Linked DNA regions of Homo sapiens: all the other regions are reported to be linked to region 2. The links are microRNA targets in miRTarBase. Many come from high-throughput screens and were not tested one by one. Region 2 holds a microRNA gene; each other region holds the end of a gene's coding sequence. Distances are between the middles of the regions.

Region 1 (3,145 bases), 610 kb from region 2:
GGACTTCTGTGCAAGGTTGCAGCTCTGTTAGGAGAAGCATATTAGCACTGACCTAAATGGCCATCCAAGTATGGTTAATTGCATTGTCGTATTTATAATTCCTTGATACAGAATGATCTCTAGGTTAAGTTAGGCACAAGAGGAAGACATGTACAACTCTGTGTGGTGGGCCACCTTGTGTGTTTTTTGAAGTGTGTGAATAAATATGTGTATTACACATATTTACATGCACAGAATCTTTGAGAGGGTAAAATGATGAGAAACTGTACCTTTAAGAAGGGAAACTAGGGGCAGGGAGACCTGTTTCTCTGCATCCCCTTGATTTTCTGTGCATTTAGCACCACATGTAAGTGTTGCCATTGAAAATATCAGTTTATTTAAAAATAATACTGGTGGCCTTCAGCAGAATCCCAGGGGCCTGATTTAGCCTGGCGGCCCTGCTTAAAGTCCAGGTGTTGGCAGAGGGGGTGGGCCATAACTTACCTGCCCTGTATACTGTGGGAACACAGGTGGAGTTTCCCGAAGCCCGGATTTATGAGGAGACCCTGAACATTTTGCTGTATGAGGCCCAGGATGGCCGGGGACCTGACAATGCGCTCCTGGAGGCCACAGGCGGGGCGGCGGGGCGCTCCCACCACCTGGACGAGGACGAGGAGCGGGAGCGGATCGAGCGCGTGCGGAGGATCCACATCAAGCGCCCTGATGACCGGGCCCACCTCCACCAGTGAGCAGGCAAGAGACCGAGCCGCCCTCCTCTCACCGCCCCCACTCCCTGCCGTGCTACACCCAGATCCTGTGCAGGCTGCCGGGCCCCTTCTGCTTCCCTTGGAGCCTGGAGATACTTTTGTAACAAGCCAGATGATTATTTTGGTATTGCTTGACAAGGCAAATTGATTGTCTTGACCCAGGCGTATGACCCCTGTCGTTGAACAAGCTGTGTCTAAGATCTCTACTTTTCATGAGAATCTGAGACTCTTTGGAGCCAGGCTTTCTCGGTTCTCAGAGGAAAAGTATGAATGAGTGTGAAGTGTATGTGAGAACTTTTGTTTGCAATATTTATTTTTGTGGGTGTCGACTTCCTATGTGGGCTTTTTGGGTGACACTCCCTTAAGGGTTCAGTTTGACAATTCTGAGAGTTGTCCTGCAGTTGGAGGCCACCAGAGGTATCTGAGCTCCCTGCTTCCTATTTCATAATCCTCCAGCCCCAGCAGGTCCACTCCTGGTTCCTGTGTGTTTGGCCCGGGCACAATCCCCACTGCTTTGCTAGACGTGCTTTCTGCCATGTGGCTTTGGGCCTAGAGCTTGTTGATAATTGCAGCTTGTGGCAGTGGAAATATGGCTGAATGAGCGTCTAAATCGTTGAGACCAGTGCAACTTTGGGTGCAAGGCTTTGTTTAGGGATCAAGCCTTTTGCCACCTTGGGCTGGTCTTTGGCCTGGTGCTCACTGGGACCCCATATGTCTGCGTAGGAGCAGAACTTTCCATGGCAGTAAGTGTCCAGCTCTGTTTCTGGTTCTTTCCCCAACTCCAGCCCCGTCCAGTTGTTCTCCTGATTGACCCGACTCCACTCCAGGAAGGCCATCTGACCCTGTGACAGGCATAGCTCATAAACTACCCCTCCCTGGGATCCCGCTCCTCTTCAGCCTCCTTCCCCATGAAGCTGGGCTAACTTTCTAAGTCATTTTGCTTAGAAATTCAGTGTGGCCCATACCCTTTGTCCTCCCAGCCTGGCATCCAGGCAGGGACACCCTCACACCACCAGCCCCAGGGAGCTTCCCTGCTATAAACACAGACCCCCTTGTCTTTGCCTCTGATTTTTACACAGTGTAGAGTGGCCAGCAGTGAACAGGTTGAGGATGTGCGGGTAGATAGATAACTTTGGGTCTGGTTTGTGTCTGTGTTCATGTTTGTTTAAGGGATATGTGTGACTGTGGGTGGGGACGTGTGCTTGTGGGGCACAGGTGGCGGCCCCTGCTGGAGCCCGGCTGGGCGCAGCGCCTATGTAGGACGGGTGTTCTCAGTGACCTACCTCCCAGGCTCCTCTGCACCTGCAAAGGAACAGGAGTGAGTCGTGACTGACAGGGGTGGTTGAGACTAGACTAGGTAGAGTAGTTACCAGGAGATGTGAATGTGCGTCAGGTGATGGATGGGTTTGTCAAGGGAATCGTTACCGTTTTATACCAAAGGTATTAACATGGGCAGCCTTTGACACATGTATTCCAAAAACGAGTTTATATTTTCAAACGGTTTTTACAGCTTAGACTTTGTACTTACTGCCCTGCCTGTGACAGTTGTATGCCTTCATTTTGTATCCAACAGCAAAGTCTACAATAAAACTTTAAAACAATCATGACTGAATGTCAAAATCGTGTATTGGGCAGATGCTTTTTAAACTGTCGTGTGAGAAACTTTTATATTAGGCCATTTGGATTTTATTAAGTGCTAAGGAAAGAGGGCTTACAAAATGTTTCGTAAATATTTTATACTGTTTAAGTGTTAAACACCAACCCTGTCTTTCTTTTGGGTTGAGCTTTTTTAGAAAGTCGAAGTGAATGTTGGCCAGGAAAATGGAAAAGCCATTGTATAAATTTTTTTTTGAGGCGGAGTCTTGCTCTATTGGCCAGGCTGGAGTGTAGTGGCACCATCTCCACTTACCACAACTTGTGCCTCCTGGGTTCAAGCGATTCTGCTGCCTCAGCCTCCCGAGTAGCTGGGATTGCAGGTACCCATCAGCCCATGCCCAGCTAATTTTGTATTTTTAGTAGAGATGGGGTTTCACCATGTTGGCCAGGCTGGTCTTGAACTCCTGACCCTGTGATCCGACCACCTTGGCCTCCCAAAGTGCTGGGATTACAGGTGTGAGTCACCACACCTGGCTGCATAGTGTTTTAAATGTTTGTGTGAAGAATGAGTTTGTGGAACAATTTGATTTGCTGTGGCCTCTATGCCTAATGAGCTAGTGTTTCTGGCAGCTCTCTCTACCCAACTTTGCACTTGTAGTTTTGAGTCTTTGTCTCTCTGGAATATGAACAGGTTTATAAAACATTCCATGGTGAACAATTCTGTCGGCTGCATTATAGCCATGAGTGAATAGACAGCATTGGCTGGTCCAAGCTCTGTTATTGAGTATACAAGGAACTGATTT
Region 2 (3,157 bases):
CATCGTTCTCTTCTGCTCTGGGCACGAAACAGGGCCACTTCTGTTCTGGAAAACACGAAGAGGGCAAACAGTGCTGAGGCAGGGAAGGTCTTGCTTGGTGAGGGTAAAACTATGCAAGAGATGAAAGGGCAAAGTCATGAAATATGCCCATACCAGTGATCAGTAAAATCATCTGAAGCTTTTATTACCTACCGATAAAGAAAAATTACAGGTCGTGTTTTACCAAAATCGAATTAAGTGGAGATTTAAAAAATAACTTTAAAAAATTTGGCTGGGTATGGTGGCTCATGCCTATGATCCCAGCACTTTGGGAGACCGAGGTGGGAGGATCTCTTGAGCCTAGGAGTTCAGTACCAGCCCTGGCAGCATAGTGAGACCCTGTCTCTACAAAAAAATTAAAAAATTAGCTGGGGGTGGCAGCACACACCTGTAGTCCCAGCTACTTGGGTGGTTGAGGTGGAAGGATCGCTTGAGCCTGGGAGGTGGAGGCTGTGCTGCGTGAGCCGTGGTCGTCCCACTGCACTCCAGCCTGGGCGACAGAGTAAGACCCTGTCTCAAAGGAAAAAAAAAAAAATTGGTAACTCGAAAACTTGTAATGCTCCCAACACATACAAATGATTAATACTCAAGGTCATGGATACCCCAGATACTCTGACTTGGTCATTACACAGTTTATGCATGTAACAAATACTTACATGTTTTCCATAAATATGTAAAATACTACGTCGATAAAAAATTCTCGTTAATTTTGAGATAATTTCCAGCTTACATAAGAATTGCAAGTACAGTGAAAAGAACTTTCTTTTTTGAACCATTTGAAAGTAATTTGTCAACCTGCTACTCCATTACCCTTGGAATACAGACCAGGGCATTCTCCCACAGAACCGCAACACAGCCATCCACGCGGGACACTGACTCTGATGCATTCCCACCGTCTAGTCCTCTAACCCCATTCAAGAGTCACCATATGTCCCAGCGTTGTCCTTCATAACAAAAGATCCAATTCAGGACTGCCCATTGCATCTAGTTATCCTGTCTCTTGGCTCTCCTGCAGTCTGGAACCTTCCTCAGTCTTTCTTTGACTCTTGTGGCCTGGATTTTATTTTATTTTTTTATTTTTTGAGTTGGAAACTCACTCTGTCGCCCAAGCTGGAGTGCAGCGGTGATATCTCAGCTCGCTGCAACCTCCACCTCCCGGGTTCAAGCGATTCTTGTGCCTTAGCGCCCCAAGTAGCTGGGATTACGGGCATGCTCCACCACGCTCGGCTAATTTTTGTATTTTTAGTAGAGAATAGGGTGTTGCCATGTTGGCCAGGCTGGTCTCGAACCCCTGACCTCAAGTGATCCGCCCACCTCAGCCTCCCAAAATGCTGGGATTACAGGCATGAGCCACTGCGGTCGACCATGACCTGGACATGTTTGTGCCCAGTACTGTCAGTTTGCAGAGTGTCCCTCAGTGTGAGTGTGTCTGATGTTCTTGTGTGATTCCACCGGGCACGTGTATTTGGCTGGAACATCACCCAAGGGATGCTGCGTCCTCGTTGAATCCCATAAGGTGGCACTTGATTTCCTTTTGTCCCACTATGGTGACATTCACTTTGGTCACTAAGGTGGGTTTTACCAGGCTTTTCCACTGTACAGTTATTCTTTTCCCCTTCATCATTCAGAAGCATTCCTTGGAGAGATACTTTAAAATTATGTTAATATCCTGTCTGCCATCAATGTCCGTTTCAATTCTTTGTATTTTTCTGTTTTATTCAGTGGTTTATAATCTGCTCTTAAATTGTTGACATCCTTGCTCAAATTGTCCTTGTGGACAGTTAGGGCCAGTGGGATCTCATCCAGGCTGGCTTCTGTGTCCCTTTGACATGTCCACATCATTCTTTAAGTGCTTTCTTGCTTTCTGGCAACAGATGCTCCCTACCCACCTGTGGAATCAGTCCTTTATCCAAGGGGCTCTGGTTCCTTTTAGTGGAAAATGAAATTTAGGAGCCAAGCTAGGTCTGCTTATTGCTGTTGGGGTGTTGCTAACCACAGGCCTCTCAATGGGCAGAATTAGGGAACATTTGTATGTACGTGCATACACACACACGTGCATCTATATTTATTTCAATAGGTTGAAAACTATGAGTTCAGACTGGTACCTTCAATTCTGATGCAGCACCTTGGGGTTCATTCTAGTTTTGTCTCTCCATATTCATGACTCCCATTGTCCCTGAAATATTAATAAATATTAACATTATGCATATTATATAAACTTAGGTATTATTTATATTATATAGTATATATTTGTTAATATTGATTATATTAATATTAATATAATCGATTATATTAATATAGTTATAATCGATTATATTAATATAGTTATAATCGATTATATTAATATAGTTATAATCGATTATATTAATATAGTTATAATTGATTATATTAATATAGTTATAATTAATTATATTAATATAGTTATAATTAATTAATATAATATGTATATATGCTATATATCATAAATATATTAATTATAAATATTAATATTAACATTAATGTTTAATATTTCATTCCTTGCCTGTGAGCAGTCTCTGTCTCCCTTGCAGCCCCCTCCCTGCACAGATGCCCTTTGCACCCTGCTTGCCAACAGACACCTCAGCTTGGGATCCCACACCCCCTCCCCAACTCAGAAGCTTGCCCTGCCCTTCCCCGCCAAATGGTTTTTAGGTCTGAATTGTTGGGAGGAGAAGTGGACTTTTTTGAGACTGTTTTCCAGAGGTATCAGTTCAGCTGAAAGCCAGTGCCTAAGAGCAGAGGTTTCAGAGTTACACTCCTGCCTTCCCCTTCCTGCTTCCCGGCTCCTTGGTCTCATGAACTTGGGCAGGTGACTTAACCTCCCTGAGCCTCAGTGTTTGTTTGTTTTGTTTTCTGTTTTTTTGTTTTTTTAAGACGGAGTCTTACTCTGTTGCAGTGCTGTGGCACAATCTCGGCTCACTGCAACCTCCATCTCCTGGGTTCGAGTGATTCTTGTGCCTCCCAATAGCTGGGATTACAGGAGCACGACACCACGCTCGGCTAATTGAGCCTCAGTTCCCGTATGTATAAAACACTGAGAGATGGACACTGGGGAATAAATGAGTTAACATACCTGATGTGCTTAGCATAGCGCTCAACG
Region 3 (3,157 bases), not on the chromosome of region 2:
AATGAGCCTCAATCACAAATGGTTCATCCAGACAAAAGAGCCATTCTGATACACTGAATCCTTCTGTTCTATAGCTTTCTCTCTTTCCCCCTTCTTTTCCCTGGGTGTTTATACATACATGATGCCACTGAAACAAACACCTGAAGGATTGACAAGTGTACAGTGTCACCAAATTAGACTCTTTGTTAAAGTGATTGTTAATACTTGTATGTTTTAACACCTAGCATATCAGACGTACAAGAGGAGATTGAAGAACAAACATGGAAAAAAGAACTCAGGTTGCACAGAAGTCTGCCATACGAGGAAATCGACTTCTTCCAGAGAGACCAATGCCTTCTTGGAGGTGAATGAAGAAGGTGCCATCACTCCTGGGCCACCAGGGCCAATGGATTGCCACAGGGCTCTCGAGCCAGTTGGCCACATCACTTCATGTGAATAGCAGGGACTAGCTGGCTGGACTGGCCCCCTTCTTTTTCAGTGGCCAGTAAAGACAGTGTGCAGCTGACACATGAATCTTGTTGGTAGGGCCAGTGTGAATATTTAAGTGTTCAATGTTAGAATATTTATATTTTCATGTGGATTGTGAATTGTGATGGGATCACTTTTGGAGATTCCCATTTCAGGGAGTTTCTTCTGGGGGTTAACATAACGTATCAATGAGCTGCCTTGTATGTTCTTGTCTTCCCATGCAGCAAATAGTACCTGGCAGTAGGTAAAATCCTTCATTAGGGGAACTTATCCTTATGTTGTGGATTTTTTTTTTTTGAGACAGAGTCTTGCTCTGTTGCCCAGGCTGGAGTGCAGTGGCACAATCTCGGCTCACCACAACCTCCGCCTCCTGGGTTCAAGTGATTCCCTTGCCTCAGCCTCCCAAGTAGCTGGGATCACAGGTGTGTGCCACCATGCCTGGCTAATATTTTGTATTTTAGTAGAGATGGGGTTTCACCATGTTGGCCAGTCTGGTTTCGAACTCCTGGTCTCAAGTGATCTGCCCGCCTCAGCCTCCCAAAGTGCTGGGATTACAGGCATGAGCCACTGCGCCCAGCCACGTTGTGGATTTTAATTGAACAAGAGTTAGAACTCTAAGTAGAGGAGATGTCACCTCATACTGCAGGGTGACGCAGACCTATGTGACTTCTTGACTCTGGGCAGGTCCTCAGGTGCACTGAGAGGAGAACAAATAGCTCTTATAATAAATGGGGCAGTTTTCTCAAATGATTATTATTTTTAAGAAATTGAAAATCATTTTGATTATAGATGTAACACAAGCTTGGAAAGAATTTAAAACACACATACGGTTAAAAATGGAATGCCCTGTATTTTCACTTTCTAAAGATTGACACATGGTTGGGCACAGTGGCTCATGCCTGTAATCCCAGCACTTTGGGAGGCTGAGGTGGGCAGATCACCTGAGGTCAGGAGTTCAAGACCAGTCTGGCCAACATGGTGAAACCCCATCTCTACTAAAAATACAAAAATTAGCCAGTCATGGTGGCATGCACCTGTAATCCCAGCTACTTGGGAGGCTGTGGCAGAAGAATCACTTGAACCCAGGAGGCAGAGGTTGCAGTGAGCTGAGATCACGCCACTGCGCTCCAGCCTGGGTGACAGAGTAAGACTCTGACTCAAAAAAAAAAAGAAAGACCCATGTGTATCCTTCTAAGCTGTGTATGTAAACTGTATCATTTTAAGAACCTTGAGATCATTCCATATATTGTTTTGTAAGTCACTTGATGACACATTATGGAACATCTTTGAGTGTCAGTCTGTGTTGACCTACCTCATTCTTTAGTATAGTAGTGATGTGGAAGTATTCTATTGTGTGGAAGGACTGTAATTTATTTAACCACTCCTTATTCATGGACACTTAGATAGCTTTCAGCTTAACAGTATTACAGTGCTGTTACAAACACTTTTGCCTTTAGGTGCAAGTATTTCTGTAGGCTCACTTCCTGTGACTTGAATTTCCAAGCCAATTGCTTACCGAAATGTATGACAGATTGCTATCTGGCAACGTTGTACAGCAGTGCCTGAGAGGGCCTGGTTTCCCACAGTCTCACCAGTCAAATGAATGATCAATTTTGATTGGTTAAAACATCTCATTTAAAATTTCATTTAGGCTGGGCGCGGTGGCTCACGCCTGTAATCCCAGCACTTTGGGAGGCCGAGGCGGGTGGATCACGAGGTCAGGAGATCGAGACCATCCTGGCTAACACGGTGAAATCCTGTCTCTACTAAAAATACAAGAAATTAGCCTGGTGTGGTGGCGGGCGCCTGTAGTCCCAGCTACTCTGGAGGCTGAGGCAGGAGAATGGCGTGAACCCAGGAGGCGGAGGTTGCAGTGAGCCGAGATCATGCCACTGCACTCCAGCCTGGGCAACAGAGCGAAACTCCATCTCAAAAAAAAACAAAAAACAAAAAACAAAATTTCATTTAAAAACTGAATGAACTAAAGCATTTTTCACAATCACTTGGCAACTTATGTCCTTTGCCTGCTTTTCTATTGTATCTTTTCCTTTTTGATGTATAGATTTTGAACCATAATGATAAGTGACAATGTGTCCTATGTTTTGTCAACATTTTACCTACTCGTTTATCTTTTGTTACTCTATGTCTTTTGCAATACAGAGTTTTATTTTTTTAATATATTCAGCTTATTAATCTTATTAAGAATGTTTTTTTTTTGCTCTGATCTCTGCCAAATGTTAGCATATTTATATATTTGTGTGGATTGTGAATTGTGATAGAATCTTTTTTTGAGAATGTATTTGGCCCCTTTTCAGGGAGTTCTTTCTGGGGGCTTACACAACATATTTACTAGCTGCTGTGTGTACTTCTTGTCTTCCCATGCAATACATGATGCCTGGCAGTAGGTAAATCTGTCCTCTACTAGAAATTATTAAAAATATTTTCCCATATGTTTTTCTAATACTGTGATGGAGCAAATACATACATACTTATTCCATTTTGAATTTTTCCTGTATGGCATAATAATCTAATTTTTTTATAGTTAATTATCCAAACATCATATATTGAATCATTATTCTTTTATCTACTGATTTGAAATGCTACCCTTATCACATAACTTCCTATATAATGTGTTTTTGTTGGGACTCTGGTTCCATTTTGTGTCTATTCTTATTTGTAAGTTTTGAAA
Region 4 (3,152 bases), not on the chromosome of region 2:
CCAGCACTCGGGAGGGTGAGGCAGGTGGATCAGTTGAGCCCAGGAGTTTGAGACCAGCCCGGGCAACATGGCAAAACCCCATCTATTAAAAAAAAAAAAAAAAGTAACTGAGTCACTGAGGTGGCCCATCAAGGCCCTGGCTCTGAAGGATGTCTGGCTGGGTGGGTGGACGTGCCACCTTCCAAGGTGCCACTGTGGAGCAAGACACTGGTGGAAGTACAGATTTGTTCTTGGTTTCTTGCAGTGGCATTTGGGAGGTGTCCACGTTTTGTGCTTTGATCAGCATGTGGAGCCACTCCCGTGTCCAGAGGTCGCTGCCCTGGTCCCAGGCTAGATTCCATTGAGGTTGGTTTAATGTTTTTCTCCACTAATCCCCACATCCCTTTCAGAGAACACCTTCAAACGCATTGGACCCCCGCTGGAGAAGCCTGTGGAGAAGGTGCAGAGGGTGGAGGCCCTCCCGAGGCCCGTTCCGCAGAACCTGCCACAGCCACAGATGCCACCCTATGCCTTCGCGCACCCACCCTTCCCCCTGCCTCCCGTGCGGCCTGTGTTCAACAACTTCCCACTCAACATGGGGCCTATCCCAGCCCCGTACGTGCCCCCTCTGCCCAACGTGCGGGTCAACTATGACTTCGGTCCCATCCACATGCCCCTGGAGCACAACCTGCCCATGCACTTTGGCCCCCAGCCGCGGCATCGCTTCTGATGGCCCCGAATCCCCATTGAGCAGCACAAAGCCCGTTTGGGGTAGGAGTGTGGATGGAGAACCCTCCCCCAAGGCTGGTGTCTGTACCATTGCATCCTAAGTCAGCTTGAAGGGTAGGCTGGTTTTCTTCCCACCCCTTTCCTAGAAGGGCTACTGCTCCTGGAAGAGTGGACGGATCCATAATAAAGACGTCCCAAATGGTGGAGTTCGGAGAGAGCTGCGATGTGAACTGCCCCTCCCCTCGCATCCCCCAGGCCACCAACGGCAGTCCTTCTGCCTTGTCCATGGCATAGGCCATAGACCAGGTCCCTGCTGCTCACACCTGGGCCTCTCCTCGGAGCCGACCCCTGGGTAGCAAGGCAGCCGAGAGCATCTCCCTGGAGGGGCCCACGGTTGGGCCAAGGGCAGAGGGGGCTGCACCTGCGGGCCTGGGAAGCATTGCTCAGGGTGGGGGGCTGGGACCATGGCCCGCAGAGGCACTGCCACAGCTGTGAGGGCCAAGATGCTGTCCCCCCATCCAAAACCCGTGCGCCACTGCAGTGAGTGTTGAGGGCACCTCTCCTCCCCTCTTACACCTACTCAGATGAGGCAGCAGCAGACCCATCTCGCGGCGGGGGTTTTGTTCTGTTGCCGCCTAACTTTCTCATCCTCGGTCTCTGGAAAGTCAGGCTGAGAAATCCTTTCCCAGGCCAGGCCGCTGCGGTACACTGGATGGTTCTGAAGCTGGCCCATTGAAAGAGCCTCTTAAGGCAGCTGGGACAGAGGCCTGGTGGCCCTGCTGGGCAGCCCAACTGCTGGGGGAGACGTTTCTGCCACCCTGGGTGATGAGCAGCTTTTCCCCCCTGGCTTTCTGGGGGAGGAGTGGGCCTCCTTAGGGAGACAGGTGACCCTGGGTGCCACCCCTGCCCCGTGTGTGCCCCGGGTGTTCTCAGTGGTTGCTGAAGGCAGGTAGAGGGTGCTGTCCAGTATCCCCCATGTGAAGGTCACTTCCCTTCTCATGGAGTCAGCTGAGCATCAGCTCAGCCCTGCCATGTCCCCACTCACCCTCCTCGCCTCCTGTCCGGCCCTGGGTTTCTAGCGGTGCCTGAGGCATCACTCTGGCCCATTGACAGATGAGAGGTCTGAAGCCTTCCTGGCCACAGGCATCACTTTCTCCTCCTCCTCATGCCCTGCCTTGTCCTTGTCGTGTTGCCATGGGGTTCTGAGAGGCTGGGAGTTCACAGACCTCAGACACAGCTGAGTCCGACAACCATTGGGGTGGGGCTGCATCAGTCTCCGGAGTGGCCCGCCACCTCCTGAAGCAGGGCCTGGCCCACCCAAGGTGCCTGGGGCAGGCGGGCACCGTCATTCGCTGCCATTGGCTTCTCAGATGTATTTCAAGGACTAAAGTGGGCTCTAAGATCTAAGATGGCCCGGCGCGGTGGCTCCCGCCTGTAATCCCAGCACTTTGGGAGGCCGAGGCGGGCGGATGAGTTGAGGTCGGGAGTTTGAGTCCCCGTCTCTACTAAAAATACAAAATTAGCCGGACAAGGTGGCGCATGCCTATAATCCCAGGTACTCAGGAGGCTGAGGCAGGAGAATCACTTGAACCTGGGAGGCAGAGGTTGCAGTGAGCCAAGATTGTGCCACTGCACTCCAGCCTGAGCAACAAAAGCAAAACTCTATCTTTAAAAAAAAAAAAAAAAAAACTAAGATACCCATTCTTTCTGCCTTTGCCCAGGATGGAGGCTTTGAAGACAGGTGGTCACCTGGACCTGGGGTAAGGGTGCGCAGGGAGGCCGGGCTTGGGGGCAGCCTGCTGCTATGTCCTTGCTGGCGCCCATACCTGTTGGACTGCCTGAACTTTGCTACTAGCCTGAACGACAGTGCCTTGGAAAGGCAGGCTCCATGCGGCAGCAACAGGATTGTCTTCGGTACCTTAAATATGCTCCCTGTGCTTCCCCAGGGAGGATCTCTGGGAGCAGAGGGCGGCTGTAGACATCACAGCTGAAGAGGTGACCTCAGGCCCTGGGAGCCTCAGCTCCCTCTGCCCTGTACCCTAGGCACGTGGCTCCAGCAAGAGCCCCAGGCAGGACAAAGGGAGCAGGCAGCAGCTGCAGAAACAGCCCTAGACAGGTGCTGGCCTCAACCCTGGCAGGGGAGGGGGAGCCCAGAGTGATGTTTCTCCTAAGGCCAAACCCCAGGGGTGGGTCATTTGAGAGGAGTTCCAGCTGTTCTGGCCACACTGGGCTGGTGGGGAAGGAGCGGCGGCCTCTTTCCTTGGAGGGTCCCTGATTCCTGAGGATCCTCCCCGAGCCAGGCACGGGGGACCACAGGGCTGCCGTGAGCACCCACCCTGGTTCTCCAGGCCCCTCTGTCCAGAGGCAGGGCCTGAACCTCGGGCTCCTGCCTGGACCAGTGACAGCATTGGGGAGAGAAGCACTGGGGGTCTTCAGACCAGCCA

What was found. The annotated mature microRNA hsa-miR-619-3p reads GACCUGGACAUGUUUGUGCCCAGU and lies in region 2 at 1,407-1,430, shown strand. An mRNA with a match to its seed (bases 2 to 7 or 8) in the 3' UTR can be bound and repressed. Matches are read on the target gene's strand: a 7mer-m8 pairs with bases 2 to 8, a 7mer-A1 pairs with bases 2 to 7 and ends in A, and an 8mer does both.
Region 1: the mRNA of KCTD10 is a reported target of hsa-miR-619-3p. The part of its 3' UTR that is shown has no 7-base or 8-base seed match.
Region 3: miRTarBase lists SLC10A6 as a target of hsa-miR-619-3p. The part of its 3' UTR that is shown has no 7-base or 8-base seed match.
Region 4: the mRNA of RNF216 is a reported target of hsa-miR-619-3p. Seed matches in the 3' UTR shown: 7mer-A1 at 2,260-2,266.

What each region holds. Positions count from the first base shown.
Region 1 is chr12:109,449,178-109,452,322 of GRCh38, reverse strand. It overlaps KCTD10 (potassium channel tetramerization domain containing 10), which reads left to right. Exons shown (of 7, transcript NM_031954.5): 7 at 510-3,145. The coding sequence ends at 728. Among named protein-coding and RNA genes, the nearest start is that of KCTD10, 27 kb to the left of the region's middle.
Region 2 is chr12:108,835,196-108,838,352 of GRCh38, reverse strand. It overlaps MIR619 (microRNA 619), which reads left to right and starts at 1,347; the gene lies at 1,347-1,445. The region is part of intron 2 of SSH1 (slingshot protein phosphatase 1); the gene reads left to right. RefSeq lists an enhancer at 1-491.
Region 3 is chr4:86,820,970-86,824,126 of GRCh38, reverse strand. It overlaps SLC10A6 (solute carrier family 10 member 6), which reads left to right. Exons shown (of 6, transcript NM_197965.3): 6 at 225-659. The coding sequence ends at 439. Among named protein-coding and RNA genes, the nearest start is that of SLC10A6, 27 kb to the left of the region's middle.
Region 4 is chr7:5,620,417-5,623,568 of GRCh38, reverse strand. It overlaps RNF216 (ring finger protein 216), which reads left to right. Exons shown (of 17, transcript NM_207111.4): 17 at 390-3,152. The coding sequence ends at 709. Among named protein-coding and RNA genes, the nearest start is that of FSCN1, 29 kb to the right of the region's middle.